Linked DNA regions of Homo sapiens. The protein of the gene in region 1 interacts with the protein of each later gene in a pairwise test. Each region holds a gene or a part of one and is shown in the gene's direction. Other genes may lie near its edges. The genes, in order: ARMC12, GAD2 and SENP2.

Region 1 (3,653 bases):
GCATAAGCTCTGTTGTGACCAAAAAGGGTTGGTTTGCAGTAACAAAGGACACTGCTGTCACTCAGGAAATTCCAAAGGTTTCAGGAGCTCTGTTCCTGGAACTAGGGACAAAGATCAGATGTATTTTTTATACTCTATCCCCTGGGCCTGTGTTAATCAGAGGTTGGTGTCATGGCCACGGATAACTTCTCCATTACTCCATAGACAAAATGTAAAACACCACATGTCACTTCCCCCTTTCCCTGCTATCATACCCCCAAACTTACAGTATCCACACCCATCCTCCCTGCTTTCCTGCTGCTGCCATGAAAAAAATGGCTTTCTCCTGGTCTGTGGCCAGTGATAGTCTCAATCCTGCCTCCCACCCCTTCCTTAAGGGCCTCTCTGATTGCTTACGCTCCGCTCCCCCATCAGCATGCAGTAGGCTCCAACCCCTCCCATCTTACAAAGCAAAACCAAAAAAGCCTCTCCCTTGACCTCCACATCTCTTCCTGGCAAATAGTCTATCTCTCCCAAATTAAAAACAAATAAAATATGTAAAACTTGCAAATATTGTATATGTGTAAGTTAGAAGGAATAACAATAAAACAGAACATGCCCAGGCCAAGAAATAGAGCACAGCCCCCTCCCACATCTTGGCTGCCTCCCCCACCAGAGGCAGTCATTACCCTGCATTTTGTTTAGCAGTTCCAAATTTTCTTTGTAGTTTTACCATATATGTATGTATCCTTGCATATTCTAGCAGGGCATAGCAGATAATAAAGAGGTAAAATATAGTCTGGTATGTTTTTAAGCTTCATGTACATGGAAGTAGATGGTTTCTATTCTGTGGTTGGCCTTTTCTCCCTGCTACGTGGAGAGATTCATCCTTATTGGGCAGCTCTGCTTCCTTCTGGTTTTTTTTTTTTTTTTTTTTGAGACAGGGTCTCGTTCTGTCGCCCAGGCTGGAGTGCAGTGGCGTGATCTTGGCTCACTGCAGCCTTGACTTCTCAGGCTCAAGCAGTCCTCCCACCTCAGCTCCCCTAGTAGCTGGGAGTACGGGTGTGCTCAGTGAGTACGGGAGTACTATGTTTCTCAGGCTGGCCTTGAACTCCTGGGCTCAAGCAATTCTCCCCCCTGGGTCTCTTTCACCGCTCTGTGGTGGTCTCTTTCGTGAATACTCTGCCACTTGCCCGTTGTTAGGCATTTGCATTGTTTCCAGGTGCTTGTCACACTCACATTGTGCTGTGAACATTCCTGTGTTCGTCTCCCTTGTGTGCCTGAGAGAGGATTCTAGGGTGTGTATGCAGGAGTGGAATGGTTTGGTCAAAGGGTATGCCCAACTTTTCCAGGAGGGAGGTATCCATTTTCACCCCACCAGCCCTGCACGAGTGTTCTATTGTGTCATAACCTAACGTTTGATAATTTCACATTTTAATTTTTTTTTTTTTTGAGACAGAGTCTTGCTCTGTTGCCCAGGCTGGAGTGCAGTGGCACGATCTCGGCTCACTACAACCTCTGCCTCCCAGGTTCAAGCAATTCTTGTGCCTCAGCTTCCAGAGTAGCTGGAATCACAGGCGTGCGCGCACCACCATGCCTGGCTAATTTTTTTGTATTTTAGTAAAGACAGGGTTTCACCATGTTGGCCAGGCTGGTCTCAAACTCCTGGCCTCAAGTGATCTGCCTGCCTCGGCCTCCCAAACTGCTGGGATTACAGACATGAGCCACCATGCGTGGTCCACATTTTAATTTTTGGCATCAAACTTTTTTGGGGAAAAAATTCTCTTTACATGTATCCTCAAAATATGCACAACTATGATATATCAATAAAAGCAAACACACAAAAGAATAAAAATAGATTGAGAAACAAACAGAAAAAAATACCTAGAGAGATCTCTGCTTGCTGCCTCATCCCTCAGCCTTCTCAAGTGCAGTGGTACGATCTTGGCTTACTGCAACCTCCACCTCCAGGACTCAAGTGATCCTCCCACCTCAACCTCCCTAGTAGCTAGGATTACAGGCATGCACCAATATGCCCGGCTAATTTTTGTATTTTTTTAGAGGTGGGGTTTTGCCATGTTGTTCAGGCTGGTCTCGAACTCCTGAGCTCAAGTGATCCACCTGCCTCAGCCTCCCAAAGTGCTGGGATTGCAGGTGTCAGTCACCACACCTGGTCAGGCTGTGATTCTCAAGCATATTATAATCACCTGGAGAGCTTGTTAAAAGCAAAGATTTTGGCTGGGCGCAGTGGTTCAAGCCTGTAATCCCAGCACTTTGGGAGGCTGAGGTGGGCAGATCACCTGAGGTCAGTTCGAGACCAGCCTAGCCAACATGGAGAAACCCCGTCTCTACTAAAAATACAAAAATTAGCCGGACGTGGTGGCGGGCACCTGTAATCCCAGCTATCCGGGAGGCTGAGGCAGGAGAATCACTTGAACCCGGGAGGCAGAGGCTTGCAGTGAGCCAAGATCACGCCACTGCACTCCAGCCTGGGCCACAGAACGAGACTCTGTCTCAAAAAAAAAAAAAAAAAAAAAAAAGCCCAGGGAGTTCAGTTCAACAGGAGAACTTTGTTTTTCACAAATCCCCCAGGAAATTCTGATGCAGGCGGCCTGAGTCCCACTCTTCCTTTTTTTCCCCAGTGTCTTTATGCTGAGGGCCTGACCCCTGGTCTCTTTTCAGGTGAAAGTAGTTACTCCTTGATCTCAATTTCCATCTAGCTGTGCCCTTCTGGATCTCTGCAGCCTGTGGGCTCCCCTGCCTTCCCCATGGGCAGCTGCTACTAGGCATATCCACTTAGATGCCCTCCAAGTTCTCTAACCCAACATATCCAAAATGGAGCTCACCCCATTCCCTGAATCAGCCCACTCTCTCCAGAGGGCTCTTAGGCCATCAGGCCCTTTGGGTCTGCCTCAAGGCTCTCAGCATAAAGTGCGTGATTGGCCATGGGCTGCACCTCCTTGCCCTAACCCCAGCCACGTACAATGCATGCTTTATGCTCTCACATGCCCCCTTGCTGCTGTTCCCTCGTTCTGAAACCCTGTCCCAGACTTGCTGACTCCAACCTGTCCTGCGGGTCGCCACGGCTTTTGAGGGGTGGGGGAAGGGAAGGGCAGGTACTGATGGGAATGCTCACTTCCACTCCAGGACTCTTGCTTACTTCTTACATGGCTCATAAAGGTGCAGCTCGTGAGGTTACCTGTCTTTGGTAATGCCTCTAGGTCCAAGCATCTTACTTTTTTTTTTTTTTTTTGAGACGGAGTTTCGCTCTTGTTGCCAAGGCTGGAGTGCAATGGCGCGATCTCAGCTCACCGCAACCTCCGCCTCCCGGGTTCAAGTGATTCTCCTGCCTCAGCCTCCCGAGTAGCTGGGATTACAGGCATGTGCCACCACGTTCCGCTGATTTTTTGTTTTTGTAGTGGAGATGGGGTTTCTCCATGTTGGTCAGGCTGATCCTGAACTCCCAAGCTCAGGTGATCTGCCCACCTTGGCCTCCCAAAGTGCTGGGATTAAAGGCGTGAGCCACTGCGTCCTGCCCGCATCTTGCATCCTAGAACCGAAGATCCCTTTATTCACTCAATAAATGTAATATTGAACACTTTGTGCCAACACGCTGCTCTAAGTACAGGAGAGAAAGCAGTAAACAGAACAGGGAAGATCCCTGTGCTTGTGGA
Region 2 (3,653 bases), on another chromosome or scaffold:
TTTCACATTGTGTCAAATGGCCAACCTTTCAGATTTGAATTCAGATTTTCACTTATTTTTAAGGAAATGTGCACAACACACAAGCAGGCATGATACAGACTAGCTTAGCAATTCAGCCATGTTATATAAGGATGTGTGTTCCTCCCAGCCACTGTATATGTGAGATAAAGAAAAAGGGGGGGAGGGGCAAATCAGATATCCTTAGGGGGAAATTTTTTTAAATGTACTTTTGTGGTCTCTTGGCTTTTCACAGGAGTCTTTATATTCCATCCATATTACAGCTTCATTTATAACATTTATTTGGGTGCATTCCGAGCTTTCATGTTATCTACACAAAGTCAGCCATTCATCTGCCCAGGTCTTGATTACCCTCGCTTTTTACGTTGTCTCTAATCATCCTGATACACGATGGCTGACACTTCATTACGGCAATAAAAATAAGTATGAATGAATTTCCAGGGGTGGGGAGGACTTTGTGGATCGAAGTTGATGTGTAGCCTTTAAAAGATTTGCTAGCAAATAAAAAATGTGAAATATGACATGAACATTCATCACCATAGAAACGTCATCTTTTTAGATTGCAAACATTTTGCTGATGAATTAGCAGTATTACGCTAATCAATAACAAACATTCTTAAAATGTTTGCTGTGAGAAGTTTAGTTCTTTTTTTCTTTTTGTTCACATTATTTGTACCAACAGAGAAGAAAGGTAGGCATACAAAAAGCCTTGGGACATAGATTTCTATCAAAGTCAGGCTATGGAATAGGAGTTTTGAAGGTGTATTAGACATCATCCTCAATTAACGTTCATGAAGAACCCACGTGATGTTTATACCAGGCATTAAAAATTTTCCTACCCCTCCTCAGCTTTTCCTGCATTCATAGTGCAATCCTGGGTGATGCTTTTAATTCATTTTTTGACCCATTCCCCATACCTTATATTTAGATACGTTAATAGTAAATTGCCACCTATTGTTTGTATTGCTACCAAACCAAAAAGAACCTATGGAAATGTTTTGTGTCTTCATCCTTGAAAGCTAGTGGTGCCTGAAATGCAGTCTACAGAGTTAAGATAATGGGAACTGCAAGTCAATGAAAGTAATAGTTCTGTCTATCAACGTTGCATTTAGTGCCAGGAAAAGATGGGCTAATTCAATACTTACATTTTGCCATAATGCTTATGAAACTGTTAGGTGTCACTGTAATGCATTTTATTTAAAGTTCAGATAAAAATGTGATGGATTAAGTTGGATTTCTAAGCAAGGCATATCAATTCAATCTCTCAATAGTTTTCATAACATATTTAGTCTGCTGGCCTTTTCCTTCAAATAGCATTTCAAAAAATTAACAGCAGTCATTTTCTCTATTCAGCTGGCAACTTTATAGATTTCTGTGCTATAACTGTCATACTTGTCATCTAATGCTATTTAGGGTATGTCAAATTAGTTACCATCCTTGCTACTACCAGACATTTTAATACTCCTCAAGAGATTATTTTATAAAATGCATATTATCATCTTGTTTCTACTGAGAGACCTTAACCTGATTTCCACTTGGGCTCCAAGCTTAGAGAGGAGTGAAGGGCAGTGGGAAAATGAAGTCTTCATGGATTGTTAAAATTACCTCTGTAAAAAGAAATGTTGGAACACGGAAAACTGAGCAGAGAATGATAGAATTCCAGAATAATTTGCATTTGCAGAGATCATTAGATTTGGTGCTAGTGGTGGTGGTGCTGGCTGGGGAAGAGTAGGACTTAAATGTGGTCCTGAATCTTTTACCAAACCATCAGACAAAGGGAATTAAGCGTCAGTAGATGAGGCAGCCCTAGTGTGAGTGTTGCCAGGACATAAAGAGCAGTTTGGACCGACTTTTGGCCTCTTCCCAACTGATCATGAGCACAGGGTCAGAGTTGCCTGAGGCTGGTTGTTCGCAGAGTCTGCGCATCCTTCCGGGCTCATTTGCTAGTCTGCAGGGAGCATCCCTGAGTCTGAGCAGCCAGTTCTCACATCTCAAGCTCGCCACCTTCCTGGCTGCATAGGCTGTGTGGCCACCCAATGGCTGACGCAGTGCGCTCTGCTCCCATCACAGGGCCTGGCAGGGTGGCGACAGCAGCAGGAGGCCAAGGGCTGCAGGGACACCTGACCTATGGGGGCAGGTCTCACAATTCCTTGGAGAGAGCCCTGCCTTGATTTGCTGGGCAGCCCTAGGAAGCAGCCTGTAGGGGCCACAGGATGGGAGCAAATGTCACTAGGGGAATATTTCTGCCAGAAATCGAGAGAGCCTGTTGATCTGACCTGTCAAACTATCTCCCTCCCTATTTTCACATCATCATCAGGGAATGAAATTTTTGAGGCAGGAGAGATTCAGGTGAAATGGCAGAGCAAGGTCAAAATATATATAGGGAGGAAGGGAAACCTAGCAATGAAAGCGTCAAACCTGTTTTCACTGTTTACGGAAAGTTATCATCAGGGTGAATTGGCCTTCTGATATCCAGAGGCACAACACACCCCTCACAATCTCTCTCCATCTTATGCACAGGTTTTCATTCCCAAGTTTCCCTAGAGTTAAATACTGTCTAATCATAGACACCACATTCATCCAGAAAATGAATATGAATTATAATCCTTATTAATTTCCTCACTTGAAAAAAAAAGGGTTAGGGAAAGAGAAATGAAGGAGCATCGGGAGGGAGGAAATGGCTGTGATTTCAGCTGCGAGCATAATGAAATGGGGAGTCAATGAGGCAGAGAGGAGTGAAGGGTTGCTCCAGACCTCAGTGGCCACAGCAGCAAAAAAGCCTTCTCACCCTTCGTGGATGGGTAAACTGAGGGGGTCAGCATCAGAGATAGAGGGGTACCACACGAGGCCACAAGGACATAAAACAATGCTGGAGAATGTACAATAGATACACAAGTCCTGATCCCGCTAAAATGGGCTCCCTCCCAGCTTATATCTTTACCCAGTGTCTGTCTGGCCACATGCCTGAGGCTGATAAGAGAGCACTCCAGTGCAGGAGATAAGCTAGCCATTGACTTTTGTCCCTGCTCTTCCCCATTGCCTTCCTTTATCTTGTTTTGCCTGTGCTGGAGATGAGAGACAATCACATCCCAGGCTTCAGACAGATGTCCAGGATGTGGAAGATACCTTTTTATCAGATGCTATTTCCACAATGGCCCATCTTCTAAAATTTTTGCTGCTGTGCAAATCACGGACCTATCGATGACAGGCTTTTGTGGAGCAAGAGGAGAAAACTGAATGCTAATGACATATTTATAATCACATTTTAAATAATAGCCTCAGGAGAGTGTGGATGTCAATCCATTTAGAGAGTTTTAGAGGAATCTAGAAGTTAATTAGATAAGCCTTGCGATGGACTAATCAGTCGATTGAGTATATCTTTCTGTATCTTGTTGATAAAACAGTGATGTTGACTGTATGTGGCCTTATTTTAAATCACAACTATGGAGGAGCGCTGTTGTTTATAATTAACAAAGAAGAATTGACAAGAATTAGCTTTGTCCATGCCATCTTTAGACAATCATCACCTTTTGAATCCAGGGCAAATCATTCAGCAGAGTGTCCTATTTTCTCATTTTTGCCCTGTCTTTTGTAATCATCAGCCATTTGTCACTGATATTATTATGAATGTTGGC
Region 3 (3,653 bases), on another chromosome or scaffold:
GCTCACTGCAATCTCCGCTTCCTGGGTTCAAGCGATTATCCTGCCTCAGCCTCCTGAGTAGCTGGGATTACAGGCGTCCACCGCCACGCCCAGCTAATTTTTTGTATTTTTGGTAGAGATGGGGCTTCACCATGTTGGCCAGGCCGGTCTCGAACACCTGATCTCAGGTAGTCCACCAGCCTCAGCCTCCCAGAGTGCTGGGATTACAGGCGTGAGCCACCGCACCCGGCCTACTATCTAGCTTTTGAATGCAGAAATAACAGATTGTTTGCGAATAATCAGTTGTGAACTTTAAAAAAAAATTCTTTTGGTTTAGTCAGAATGTCAGTATTTTCTCCATTTTGACCAGCCATATGTTGGAAACAGCAGTATGTTTAACGAACTCTTAACTTTGTCATGTTGGCGAAACCCTCAAACTATTTTTGCTTTTTAAAGTTGCTGCTTTGGCTGGGCACAGTGGCTCACACCTGTAATCCCAGCACTTTGGGAGGCCGAGGTGGACGGATCACGAGGTCAGGAGATCAAGATCATCCTGGCTAACACGGTGAAACCCCATCTCTACTAAAAAATACAAAAAATTAGCTGGGCATGGTGGCTGGCACCTGTAGTCCCACCTACTCGGGAGGCTGAGGCAGGAGAATGGCGTGAACCCGGGAGGCGGAGCTTGCAGTGAGCAGAGATTGTGCCACTGCACTCCAGCCTGAGCTACAGATCGAGACTCCGTCTCAAAATAAATAAATAAATAATTAAAGTTCCTGCTTCTGGCTGGGTGTGGTGGCTCACACCTGTAATCCCAGCGCTTTGGGAGGCCGAGGCAGGTGGGTCACTGGAGGTCAGGACTTCGAGACCAGCCTGACCAACATGGCGAAACCCCATGTCTACTAAAAATACAAAAATTAACCAGGTGTAGTGGCGTGTGCCAGTAATCCCAGCTACTTGGGAGGCTGAGGCAGGAGAACCACTTGAACCTGAGAGGTAGAGATTTCAGTGAGGCCATGATCACACCACTGCACTCCAGCCTGGGCGACAGTGCGAGACTCCGTCTCAAAAAACAAAAAGTTCTTGCTTTTAATGTATTGTTTCAGGATCCATTTAAATACATAGCTTAAAAAGTTTTTTATCTTTTAATCTGAGTTTTATCACACTGAGATTTTTCAGTTAGTGCATCACTGGGGATTCAGAACCTCTGATTTTACAAACAGAGAAACTGGAGGTTAGGTGACCTGGCTGAAATATTATTAGAATCATGATTAGACTCCTTTTATCCTAGTCCCACATAGTTGCTTCCTTTCTGTTGTAATTTGATATAATAGTGTAATCAATCACCCCTATTTGGAGAAGCTTGCTGGACAGAGATAATGCATATTAATGGTAGACTTTGCTTTTGTATCTGATCTCCCTCACTTTTTGTGTTTCTAAGTTCTCAAAGAAGTCAGATGGACACATTAAAGACCAAAGGCTGGGGGGAAGAGCAAAATCACGGAGTCAAAACAACTCAGTTTGTTCCAAAACAATGTGAGTTCCCAGATTTAGCCTTGTCTTAATATATTGACCTTAGTTCATGCTACAGTGTTCATATGAGGTAGAAAATTGACATTCAAGTGTAGATGGTGTACCAAAATACTGTCAAATCTCACAGCATTGGGCCGGGCGCGGTGGCTTACGCCTGCAATCCCAGCACTTTGGGAGGCCAAGGCAGATGGATCACCTGAGGTCAGGAGTTCAAGACCAGCCTGGCGAACATGGTAAAACCCCATCTCTACTAAAAATACAAAAATTAGCCAGGCATGGTGGCACTTGCCTGTAATCCCAGCTACTCAGGAGGCTGAGGAAGTAGAATTGCCTGAACCTGGGAGGTGGAGGTTGCAGTGAGCCAAGATCACGCCACTGCACTCCAGCCTGGGTGACAGTGAGACTCTGTCTCAAAAAAAAAAAAAAAACCTCACAGCATTGACTGGGGCTTATCTAGGAATTTAGTAGAAAAGCTGTTTCAGGGTGAAGTAGATTCATAACATGGCTCTGGATTATTATTCCTAAGCTGCTAGATAGTAGCAACTATTTTGTGAGCTGAAATTTTATTATATTCCTTATATAACAATTTCCTTATACTTCTCCACTTACTGTCCACTAAATGACAGCTTACCAGATAAGCAGATATCACTCAGTTTATAGTAAAGATTATATTTAAACAGCAAAGATATGTATGCATTTTTTTAGGCAACTTAGTATATAGGGAGGCTAGTGTCTTTGGAATTCACTGTAGCATTTCAATGTAGAGGAATGTCTTGATGTTGTGGAAACTCTGTAAGCTGAAATTCTAACTATATTATTCATCGATGAAGGAAACATTTAATCTTTTCTTTACCATCCTCACAGATAGACTTGTTGAAACAAGGGGACCTCTATGTTCATTGAGAAGTGAAAAGAGGTACGTACATTCAGTTCATTCTACACTTTCTTTTAATATATATTTTCTTACTTTATAAGCTGTATTTATGAGTAAGCAGTTCTGAGGAATTGTGAACTCTCTTGAGTTCTGGTAGTTGGTCAGCATATAGGGTAGATAGGTAGCTAGCTGTTGTGTCAGATGCCCACCCTAGCCTGGTGGGTTGAGGGGGGTGCCCCTTATCTCCCAGGCGTCAGGGGTTGGGAGAAACACATGCTTCTTAGATGGGAGTTTGGTTGGAGTGGGGATGTCTAGTGTCAGTGTCTTTAGGATAGGAACAGTAAAGGCAGCTCTGCATGCTTTAGGATTTTGGGATGATGGTTTATAGCAGAGTTTGTAAACTATGGCCCATGGGCCAAATCTGGTCTACTTGCCTATTTTTGTATAGTAAATTTCTATTGGAACATGCGAATTCATTTACATACTGTCTGGCTGCTTTTAAATTACAGTGGCAGAGTTGCCACGATGTGCCCAAGACCATAAAACCTGCAAAGCCTAAAATACTGTCTGTTCCTTTTCAGAAAAGTTCGTTGACTCCTGGTTTAGAGTATTATGTAAACTCAACACAATTTTTATGTACAAATTACGAAATCTTATTTCTAAAACTAGGATGTACTAGGTTTGAATCATCTAGCAGAAGTCTATCATCTCTCAATTTTTTTCCTTAGGTGTTCAAAGGGGAAAATTACTGATACAGAGACGATGGTCGGAATCAGATTTGAAAATGAAAGTGTAAGTAAAAATCCTAGTTACATTTGATACCTGTTTACTTATGTAACTTATGTTTTGGTGCCCATGAAAAGCAAGAAAAAGTATATATATATAACTTTGATTGTTAATTCTGTTGTTTTTCTTTAAAAAAGCAGCAAGCCAGCCAGTCACAGTGGCTCATGCCTGTAATCCCAGAACTTTAGGAGGCCAAGGCAGAAGGATCACTTGAGCCCAGGAGTTTGAGACCAGCCTGGGCAACATAGTGAGACTGTCTCCACAAAAAAATTTAAAAGTTAGCCAGGCATGGTGGCATGTCTGTAGTCCCAGCTACTTGGGAAGCTAAGGTGGGAGGATTGCTTGAGCCCAGGAGGTCAAGGCTGCAGTGAGCTGTGATCACACCATAGCACTCCAGCCTAGGTGACAGAATGAGACTCTGTCTCAAAAAAAAAAAAAAAAAAAAAGGCAGGAAGCATTGAAAATACACAACTTTTTTCTT

What was found.
Region 2: the proteins of ARMC12 (region 1) and GAD2 interact in binary tests that used the Homo sapiens proteins (3 or more experiments, as listed by UniProt).
Region 3: the proteins of ARMC12 (region 1) and SENP2 interact in binary tests that used the Homo sapiens proteins (3 or more experiments, as listed by UniProt).

Annotation. Positions count from the first base shown.
Region 1 is NC_000006.12:35,740,002-35,743,654, forward strand, and holds part of ARMC12 (armadillo repeat-containing protein 12), read left to right. Parts: intron 1-3,653. UniProt on the Homo sapiens protein: Essential for male fertility and sperm mitochondrial sheath formation. Required for proper mitochondrial elongation and coiling along the flagellum during the formation of the mitochondrial sheath.
Region 2 is NC_000010.11:26,219,755-26,223,407, forward strand, and holds part of GAD2 (glutamate decarboxylase 2), read left to right. Parts: intron 1-3,653. UniProt on the Homo sapiens protein: Catalyzes the production of GABA.
Region 3 is NC_000003.12:185,610,231-185,613,883, forward strand, and holds part of SENP2 (sentrin-specific protease 2), read left to right. Parts: intron 1-1,420; coding exon 1,421-1,515; intron 1,516-2,376; coding exon 2,377-2,428; intron 2,429-3,114; coding exon 3,115-3,178; intron 3,179-3,653. UniProt on the Homo sapiens protein: Protease that catalyzes two essential functions in the SUMO pathway.